Regions from separate parts of the Homo sapiens genome. Here region 2 is linked to region 1. Evidence: fine-mapped expression QTL. A gene starts in region 1. The other region holds a variant in brackets. All regions are shown on one strand. Distances are from middle to middle. Region 1 holds the start of RYR1 (ryanodine receptor 1). Region 2 overlaps RYR1 (ryanodine receptor 1).

Region 1 (5,378 bases):
GCCTGGGTGTCCGCTCCCAGTAGGGGTAGGTGGAAAAACAGAAGGGATCAGTCACCAGAGAATCCTGCAAAGCCACCACTGTCACACACCAGGTGTCCACAGAGCAACAAGGGTAGGTCTTAAAACACATAATGATGACTGACAAAAATAAGAAACACTATTAATATCTTATGATATAATGCTCAATGACACAGAATCATTTTACATTTACATAAAGTTTTAGGGAAAAACAATATTTAATATACAACTATGCGTTGGATAATGTATAACAGATACAACATAGAATTGTATTGTACTGTATAATTATATTAGCCTAAATATATAATTATATAATTATACATTATATAATGCCAAATTATATAATTCCATAATATGACACAAACTTTTGTGCTATTTATTGCAGTTGTGTTAACATCAGTATTTAATTATGGAACACCTAGAAACCTGCTATACCTTGAAGAACGGTTTCTATGTAATTTTGTTTAACTATGGGATATTGTTTTATATAACTTACTGTATACCACTACATGTTAATAAAAAAAATTTTTTTTTTTTTTTTTGAGGTGGAGCCTTGCTCTGTCACCTGGGCTGGAGTGTAGTGGTACAATCTCGGCTCACTACAACCTCTGCCTCCTGGGCTTAAATGATTCTTGTTCCTCAGCCTCCCAAGTAGCTGGGATTAGAGTCGTGTGACACCATGCCCAGCTAATTTCTGTGTTTTTAGTAGAGTCAGAGTTTCACCATGTTGACCAAGCTGGTCTCAAATTCCTGGCTTCAAGTGATCTGTCTGCCTTGGCCTCCCAACGTGCTGGGATTACAGGCATGAGCCACTGTGTCTGGCCTAGTAATAATTTTAATAGGGCTGGACGTGGTGGTTTACACCTGTAATCCCAGCACTTTGGGAGGCTGAGGTGGGCGAATCATGAGGTCAGGAGTTCGAGACCAGCCTGGCCAACATGGTGAAACCCCGTCTCTACCAAAAATACAAAAATTAGCCGGGTGTGTTGGCAGGTGCCTGTAATCCCAGCTACTCAGGAGGCTGAGGAGGAGAATCGTTTGAACCTGGGAGGTGGAGGTTGCAGTGAGTCAAGATCTTGCCACTGCACTCCAGTCTGGGCAACAAGAGCAAGAGTCCGTCTCAAAATAAATAAATAAATAAATAAATAATAATAATAGCAACACTTACATTACATTAACCAGGCACTGGCACTGTTTTAAGTTTTATCTCATTTAATTAATTATCTCATTTAACTCTCCCAACAACCACGTGAGGTCGGTACTATTAATATTCCCCTTACTGGATGGGGAAACCGAGGCACAGAGAAGCTAAGTGGCTTATCCATGTAACTCAAGGAAGTGGCAAGGCTGGGTGGGATTCAGATCCAGATTATCTGGCTTGGAGTCGGAGTCCTTGTTCTTTTTTTTTTTTTTTTCAGACGAAGTCTCGCCCAGGCTGGAGTGCAGTGGCTCAATCTCGGCTCACTGCAGCTTCTGCCTCCCGAATTCAAGGAGTTCAAGCAATTCTCCTGCCTCAGTTTCCCAAGTGGCTGGGATTACAAGCATGTGTCACCACGCCTGGCTAATTTTTGTACTTTTAGTAGAGACGGGGGTTTCACCATGTTGGCCAGGCTGGCCTCGAACTCCTGACCTCAAGTGATCCACCCACCTCGGCGTCCCAAAGTGCTGAGATTACAGGGGTGAGCCACCACTCCCGGCCGGAGTCCTTGTTCTTAATCACTATGTTTGGTGCTTTTTAAAGTCAGGAGATCTGGTGCACATCCCTGCTCTGCTGCGTGATATCTTGCAAGAACTTCCCCACTCAGAGCCTCAGTCTGCCCTCTGTGAAATGGGAGAATGATGGCACGTTACTTACCGTGGTGGGGAGAAAGCGCAGGTACCTCCTAGATACTCTCTCTCCCACCCCACCTCCGGCGGCCAACGGCCAAGCAAACCTCCAGCCAAGATTTGGGGTATGTGGGCAGGGCTCCGGCGAAGGGGAGTGGCCGGGGAGTCCTGGTCCAATGGGGCCCGGGGGCGGGGACTTCCTCCCATCTCTGTCCAGCATGCGTGTACTCCTCGCAGTTCCATCTACCTCGCGGGTGCCTCTGGTGTCTCCAGAGGTCTCCGACCCCAGCCCGCCCCCAGCCCTCCCGCCCAGCCCGCAGCCCCCTCCCTCTGTTCCCCGACCTCAGACCCTGGGCTTCCGACCTCGACATCATGGGTGACGCAGAAGGCGAAGACGAGGTCCAGTTCCTGCGGACGGTGCGTATCTCTGGGTTAGGGGCCTGTGGGGCTATCTCTTGGGGCTCTCTGAGGGTCTCTCTGTCTCTGAATGTCCCTGTCCGGCTTGCTGGTGGTCTCTGAGACTCGAGGTCTCTTCCTATGTCACTTTGAGTGACTGTCACTCTGTCTTTTAGTCTCCTTCACCTTTCTCACTACAGAGAATTAGTAGGATTGGGGACTCCAGAATGGGAAAGGGATCTTCGGTTGCCCTCTCTTCTGACTTTAGCGATTTGTCCCCCACAAGAAGGACCCCCGAGGGAGCACACCCTCACACCATCTTGGAAGCAGGCACTTGGGGAAGGTGGTTCTAATTCCTGGGCTTGATTTAGCCATCCCCCCACCCCCACCTTAGCCCTAATTCTCTTTTTGCTCCAGACTCTGACCTATTTAAATTCTTGAGAAGGGAGCTGGAGTGAGCTGGAGGACACAGCTGCTTCCAACTCCTAGCCCTTGAGGGTCTTGTGGGGGAGGGATCTCTTGGGTTCTGGGTCTTTCTTTCCTTCTTCGTTTTGGGCAGGAGGGCTGCTCCCAATGGCTGCTAATGGTCTTGCAGGGTCTCTGGGTGGTGTCTCTCCCCATCTGTCTCTTTGGGTGTCTCCATGTCTCTGTCTCTTCCTCCATCTCAGTCTCCCTGTCTCTGTTTCTTAGCTTAAGGCCCTCTGATTTTCGCTGTCTCTCTAGCTGGGTTACTCCCTGCATCTGAGCCCCAGCTGGGGGCAGGGATGGGAATTGGAACAACAGGTGTCCCTCCCAGAATAGCCGGCTTTTCTGGGGCCTGGGCAGGGGATGGGGAGGGGATGAGAGGGAGGAGGGGCTGCCATCTCCTTGTCCTTCCCATCTTCCCCTCCCAGTGGCTCCGCAGGGTGTGGGGTCGTAAATATGGGAGGGGACGTCCTCTCCTCTGGGCTAGGTCTGCTGACCAGACGCTAGCCCCGCCCCTCCCCCCGGGGCCCTGGAGCCACACAGGAAATGCTGACACAGCATTCCTGCCCCAGAATAGGACCCTGGCGAGCCGGGTCCGGTTTCCTGGGAGAGAGGAACAAACAGCTGGGGCTGGTAGTGAAGGATGGGGACAGCTGGGAAGGGGCCTAGCTTCAGCCGAGACTCTCTCCCCAGCCCCAGCCCCTCAGCAGACACCATGGGTCGGGCCCTCCCCAGCCCTAATAAGACCATGGCCATGGCCACTGGCTCTTGAGCTGTCGCTCTAAACCAGGCCCTGTGCCCTGGGCCTCTGCCTCCTGAGACATCTAATTATATCCTTGCTGCCCTGTCTTCTGAGGTAGGGTCCTATCTTTATCTCCCTGACAGATTTGAGGGAAACCAAGGCCCGAATGGTAGAATCACTCACCCAAGGTCAAGGCCAGGAAGTGGCATCTCTGGATGCCCCTGGTGCCCAGCCCCATTGCCTTCACCAGAGAAAATCTGGGCCCAGACTTGCCAAAGTAGTCAGCGTTAGGGTTCTGGAGGCTTGGCCCTGGAATCTCTCCACCCCAGACTGGGTCAGTTTTTCTGATTGTTACTGAGGTCGTGGTGGATTTCTCAAAACTTTCTGGAGGCTGGGCTCAGTGGCTCATGCCTGTAATCTCAGCACTTTGGGAGGCCAAGGTGAGCGGATCACTTGAGGTCAGGAGTTTGAGACCAGCCTGGCCAACATGGTGAAACCCCGTCTCTACTAAAAATACAAAAAAATATTAGCCAGGCGTGGTGGTGCATGCCTGTAATCTTAGCTACTCGGGAGGCTGAAGTGGGAGGATTGCTTGAACCTGGGAGGCAGAGGTTGCAGTGAGCCGAGATTGCGCCACTGCACACTCCAGCCTGGGCGACAGGGCGAGACTCCATCTCAGAACAAAAAACCTTCTGGACCACATCCCGCCCATAAGAAACATTCTGTCTTACAACTCAGTACATGCACACATGCATAGACATGACTAAAAACCAACTTTATTGAGGTATAATTGACCTGCAATAAATTTTACCCAGTTTATGTGTTCAATGAGTTGTTTTGTTTTTGTTTATTTATTTATTTTTTTGAGATGGAGTTTCACTCTTGTTGCCCAGACTGGAGTGCAATGGCGTGATCGCAGCTCACTGCAACCTCTGCCTCCTGGGTTCAAGCGATTCTTCTGCCTCAGCCTCCTGAGTAGCTGGGATTACAGGCGCGTGCCACCAAGCCGAGCTAATTTTTTGTATTTTTAGTAGAGATGGGGTTTCACCATGTTGGCCAGGCTGGTCTTGAACTCCTGACCTCAGATGATCCACCCATCTTGGCCTCCCAAGGTGCTGGGATTACAGGTGTGAGCCACCACGCCCGGCCTTTTTTTTTCTTTTTGAGACAGAGTCTCAATCTGTTGCCCAGGCTGGAGTACAGCAGTTTGGTGGTTGGTTCAACGCAACCTCCACTTCCCAGGCTCCAGTGATCCTCCCACCTCAGCCTCCTGAGTAGCTGGGACTACACGTGCATAGCACCATGCTTGGCTAATTTGTAAAATTTTTTGTAGAGGTGAGGTCTCACTATATTGCCCAGGCTGGTGTCAAACTCCTGGGCTCAAGAAATCCTCCGGCCTTGGCCTCCCAAAGTTTTGGGATTACAGGCATAAGCCACCATGCCCGGCCTTTCTTCTTTCACTCAGCATAATATTTTTGACATTCATCCATGTAGCATGTATTGAGTTTGTTGCTTTTTGTTGCCGAATATTATTCCATTGTGCGACTATACTGTGGTGTGTTTATCAGTTCACCTGCTGATGGACATTTGAGTCGTCTCCAATTTTTACTATTATAGACAACACAGGGCCTGTGACCATTCACTTGTACCTATTTTTAACTGAAACAAGTCTCATAAAATGTAGATGGCCCCTGAAGCATGATGGGCACGCTGTGATTTTCTATTCTTGCTCCATTTTGCTTCGTTTGGTTAAGTATGATGGCCACAGCCCCCCCAAACTGATTTCACTTCCCTTTGGTGGGTGGTGACCTCTACCCTTACCCAGGCTGGGGTTTCTCAAACCCTGGCCCAAGTTAGAAGCTCCTGGGGTCTGGTAAACAGTACGTATTCCCTGCTGACCCCAAATCAGGCTCTTGATGGTGGTAGGGGA
Region 2 (5,378 bases), 110 kb after region 1:
GGTATGGTGGCGCATGCCTGTAATCCAGCTACTCGAGAGGCTTAGGCAGGGGAATTGCTTGAACCTGGGAGGCAGAAGTTGCAGTGAGCCGAGATTGCGCCATTACATTCCGGCCTGGGCAACAAGAGCAAAACTCTGTCTCAAAAAGAAAGAAATTACCACTTTGTGAGCCAAAAGTGATCACATGTTGGCAATTTTATGTGACTCAACCTAACATAAATAGGGGCCATGAGGCAAAACTTTGTATTGGAGGTTTCTATGGGCCCTACACTGTGGCCCTATGTTCCCCGCAGACGGCTTACCAGAAAGCACATGGCTGTCTCTGCAGCCTTCCTCCTGAACCCAGAGTCCCACTCTTGCCATCACACATTATATTCAACATACATCTGTCAATCCCACCGTAGGCCAGGCACAGTGCTGGGCTCACATCCCTTCCTAGACCTGGGTCTCTGTCCCCAGTGTTTGTCTCTGTCTGTCTCTGTCTCTCTCTGCCCCAAATGTCTGCCCCGCAAGCCTCTCAGTCCTCCTTGTCTGCCAGCCTTCCCACTACCCATCACCTATCGAGCCCGTCCCCCAAGTGCCAACCCCACCCCCACAATCTTGTCTCTCTGCCCCTTCCCCTGCTTCCGAGGAACATGTCTGGACTCGGGTCCCCTCGGAGGTAAGAGGGGAGAAAACGGGTTTAGGCCCTGCTGGGTAGGTGAGGAGGGGGAGAAGCAACAGAGGTGGGGGAGGTGTATGCTGAGACCAGCCCTCACCGAGCTGGGATCTCTAGGACTCAAGCCAGATCGAGCTGCTGAAGGAGCTGCTGGATCTGCAGAAGGACATGGTGGTGATGTTGCTGTCGCTACTAGAAGGTAAACACCCAGGAGTGAGGGTGAGGGAACAGTAAAGAGGTTCAGAGAAGCCTGAGAATGGCCCCCTGAGACCCGGGAGACCCTAATCCTCAACCCCATCTGACATCGTGTCAGGATCCATGGGTTGATGAAGAAGCCATAATAGGCCAGATGCGGTGGCTACACCTGTAATCCCAGCACTTTGGGAGGCCGAGGTGGGAAGATCACCTGAAGTCAGGAGTTTGAGACCAGCCTGGGCAACATGGTGAGACCCTGTCTCTACTAAAAATACAAAAATTAGCCTAGTGTGGTGGTGTGTGCCTGTAGACCCAGCTACTCGGGAGGCTGAGGTGGGAGGATCACCAGAGCCCGGGAGGTCCAGGCTGCAGTGAGCTGTGATCACACCACTGCACTCCAGCCTGGGTGACAGAGCAAGACCCTGTCTCAAAAAAACAAACCCCAAAAACAAACCAAATGTCCAAATGTGGCAAAAGATAAACAATTGATGAATGTGGATATATTAGGATCCCTTTTTTTTTTTTTTCTTTTCTGAGACGGAGTCTCGCTCTGCCGCTCAGGCTGGAGGTGCGGTGGCGCGATCTCGGCTCACTGCAAGCTCCGCCTCCCAGGTTCACGCCATTCTCCTGCTTGGCCTCCCCGGTAGCTGGGACTACAGGCGCCCGCCACCACACCTGGCTAATTTTTTTTTTTTTTTTTTTGTATTTTTAGTAGAGACGGGGTTTCACCATGTTGGTCAGGATGGTCTGGATCTCCTGACTTCGTGATCCTCCCGCCTCAGCCTCCCAAAGTGCTGGGATTACAGACTTGAGCCACTGCGCCCAGCCTACATTAAAATTTAAAAATTACAAAAATAAACTGGAGCCAAGCTTCAGCTGCTGCCTTTAGAGGGAGTGTGGGATCGCAGTTTGCCAATCTCTACCTCTCCTTGCTGCTTACCACTGGCTAGCCTCAGTCTTCTGTGGACCCTCCTGACTGTGTGTACTGGTGGAAGTTTTAGTTGTGTAAGCCCTGAGGTCATGCAGCTCTGAGTTCAAATCCATTCTCCCCACTTTACTGGCTATGTAACTTTGAGTGCATGACTTTCTCTATGTCTCAGTTTCTCTTCCTAAAAGTAGAGTCACACACTTCCCTTTTTGTGTGATTGTGCCAGGGTAGCATTTGGCACCTACCTTTAGCGTACATCATCATTATCTTTTTTTTTTTTTTTGAGACAGAGTCTCACTCCATCACCCAGGCTGGAGTGCAGTGGCACGATCTCGGCTCTGCAACCTCCGCCTCCCAGGTTCAAGCAATTCTCGTGCCTCAGCCTCCCAAGTAGCTGGAA[A/T]TACAAGCACATGCCACCACGCCCAGCTGATTTTGTATTTTTAATAGAGACGGGGTTTCACCATGTTGGCCAGGCTGGTCTCAAACTCCTGGCCTCAAGTGATCCACCCACCTCGGTCTCCCAAAGTGCTGGGATTACAGGCGTGAGCCACCACGTCCGACCTGACATCATTAGCTTTACTGGGGGAGGTGGGCAAAGGCAGGATCAGCCAGGTTGGCACAGGAGGCTGACGCAGGTCAGGAAGGGACCTGTGGAGGGGAGGCTGTGGCTGGCCAGGGACACTCCAGCAGCGTGGTGGCTCCTGGGCTGGAAAGAGAGGCAAGCCTGGTGGGGCCCCAGAAGGGAGTGTTCACCGGCCACACTGACCTGGGGCTGCCTGCAGGGAACGTGGTGAACGGCATGATCGCCCGGCAGATGGTGGACATGCTCGTGGAATCCTCATCCAATGTGGAGATGATCCTCAAGTTCTTCGACATGTTCCTGAAACTCAAGGACATTGTGGGCTCTGAAGCCTTCCAGGACTACGTAACGGATCCCCGTGGCCTCATCTCCAAGAAGGACTTCCAGAAGGTGGGTGTGGGACATCGTGTGGGCCCAGGACTTGGGTGGGGTTGCCAAGGGCCAGCCATACCCTTCTGGCTGGCTGCCTCAGGCAAGAGACATCTCTGCAAGCCTCACTTTCCTTGTTTGTAAAATGAGGATAAAACAGTCCTTGGGTTATATGTATTCTGTTTTATTTCATTTTAGAGACAAGGTCTTTCTCTGTTGCCCAGGCTGGAGTGCAGTGGCGTGATCATAGCTCACTGCAGCCTTGACCTCCTGGCTTAAGCAATCCTCCCACCTCAGCCTCCTGAGTAGTTGGGACGACGGGTGTGTGACATCATGCCTGGCTAATTTTTAAGTTTATTTTTTGTAGAGATGTGGTCTCACTACATTACCCAGGCTCCTCTTGAACTCTTGGGCTCCAACAATTCTCCTACCTTGGCCTCCCAAAGTGCTGGGATTATAGGCATGAGCCACCTCGCTCAGCCCCCTTGGGTTATTTTGAGGATGAAATGCATTAACACAGATGAGAACCGTTATTACTGTTATCTTTATTGATAGTCATAACATTATCATTATTGTGAATAGGCATCAGTTATTCCATCAATAAACATTGGCTGGCTTTCTTCTCTGTGTAGGGCCTGTAGTGACACTATTGACGCATCAATGACCAAGATAGACACAGCCCGTGCTTTCATGGGTTTATAGTCTAATGGGGGAGGCAGTCACTAACTAGACCATTCCAAGTCTAAATAATGAGCCTGCTAGGAGGGAAGTGCTGGAACATCCTTATTCAGAAACCCACTCCTCCTCCTCTAACCACCTCTCCCATCCTAACTCTCCATCTTTTCTTCTGAGCCTCAGTTTCCTACTCTGTAAAATGGGGATAGGATAATCACATTAACCACTAACTATTGGCAGTGTGCGGTGGTTCATGCCTATAATCCCAGCAATTTGGGAGGCCGAGGTGGGAGGATCGCTTGAGCCCAAGAGTTCGAGATCAGCCTGGGCAACCTAGTGAAACCCTGTATCTATAAAAATAAAAATAAAACAACTATTAACTATTGTGAGGATGGGCAGTGCGGGCAGTACCTGGAATATGGTGAGTCCTCAAGAGATGTTAGCTGCTATTACTACTCCCTGATCTTTAATGTTACCATTTTGTTAACTTTTTATTTTGAAATAACTTCAGGTTTATAGAGACGTTGCAAGAACAGCACATAGAATTTCTGAATACCTTTCACCCACATTGCCCAAATGTTTTCTATTTACTATTTACTCCATCATGATTTCCCTTTCCTTTCCTTTTTTTTTTTTTTTTTTTTTTTTGAGACGGAGTTTTGCTCTTGTTGCCCAGGCTGGAGTGCAGTGGTGCAATCTCAGCTCAGTGCAACCTCCGCCTCCTGGGTTCAAGCGATTCTCCTGCCTCAGCCTCCTGAGTAGCTGGGATTACAGGCACGCACCACCATGCCCAGCTAAATTTGTGTGTGTGTGTGTGTGTGTGTGTGTGTGTGTGTGTGTGTGTGTGTGTGTTGTATTTTTAGTAGAGATGGGATTTCACCATGTTGGCCAGGCTGGTCTTGAACTCCTGGCCTCAAGTGATCTGCCTGCCTCGGCCTCCCAAAGTGCTGGGATTACAAGCATGAACCACCTCGCCTAGCCAATTTCCCTTTACTTTGAAACACTTCAGCGTGTATCTCCTGAGAACAAATTCATTCTCCTACCTAAGCACAGGACAATTATGCTAATCAGGAAATTAACATTGGCACAATGCTGCTATCTAATCCTAGACCTTATTCAGTTTCCCTTGTTGAATAAATTTCTTTCGTCAATGTCTTTTCTTTGCCAACCCAGAACCAGGGATTGTATTTAGGTGTTCTGTCTGTTTTCCTCCTTCAGTCTGGAACTGTGCCTGGGTCTGTCTTTATCTTTCCTGACATGTTTGAAGAACGCAGGCAAACTGTTTTGTAAAATGTCGTTCAGTGTGGGTTTGTCTGAGTTTTCATCATTATCAGACTAGGGTTATGCATCTTTTGCAGGAATATCAGAGAAGTGATGTGTCCTCAGTGTAATGTATTAGGAGGCACATGTGGTTTCATCCCATTACTGTTTATTTTCTTATTTATTTGTTTTTAGAGTCAGAGTCTTGCTCTATTGCCCCGGCTGGAGTGCAGTCAAACAATCCTAGCTCACTGCATCCTTGACCCCCTGGGCTCAGGCGATCCTCCTGCCTCAGCCACCCAAAGTGCTGGGATTACAGGTGTGAGTCACTGCACCTGGCCAATGTCTCTTCCCATTACTGTTGTTAACTTGGATGGCTTGGTTAACTCGGTGTTCACCAGGGGCTCCACAATGAAGTTACTGTTATTCCCTTTGGAATCAATAAGTGTCTCATGAGGATATACTTTGAGGCTATGTAAATATTCTGCTAACTCTGGGGTCATCATCCATTGATGATTCTTGCCTGAAACAATTATTCCTCTAGTAGCTGACAAATGGTGGTTTTCTCATTTCGCCGTATGCTTTACCATCACTAGGCACCATTTTACTGTAAGAAAGAGTGTTTCCTTCTTGTCCATTTCATTTCATTTTCTCATTCATCCATTCATTTATATCAGTGTGGATTCACGGCTTTTTTTTTTTTTTTTTTTTTT

The links. PIP is the estimated chance that this variant, and not a neighbour inherited with it, causes the effect.
Region 2: its variant is fine-mapped to the expression of RYR1 in whole blood (INTERVAL, PIP above 0.99).

The regions. Positions count from the first base shown.
Region 1 is chr19:38,431,613-38,436,990 of GRCh38, forward strand. RYR1 (ryanodine receptor 1) reads left to right here and starts at 2,079. Exons shown (of 106, transcript NM_000540.3): 1 at 2,079-2,262. The coding sequence starts at 2,218. RefSeq lists a silencer at 1,962-2,101 and an enhancer at 2,833-3,408.
Region 2 is chr19:38,545,670-38,551,047 of GRCh38, forward strand. It overlaps RYR1 (ryanodine receptor 1), which reads left to right. Exons shown (of 106, transcript NM_000540.3): 88 at 776-857; 89 at 2,564-2,751. Among named protein-coding and RNA genes, the nearest start is that of MAP4K1-AS1, 48 kb to the right of the region's middle. The variant A/T (reference allele first, on the strand shown) is at 2,182.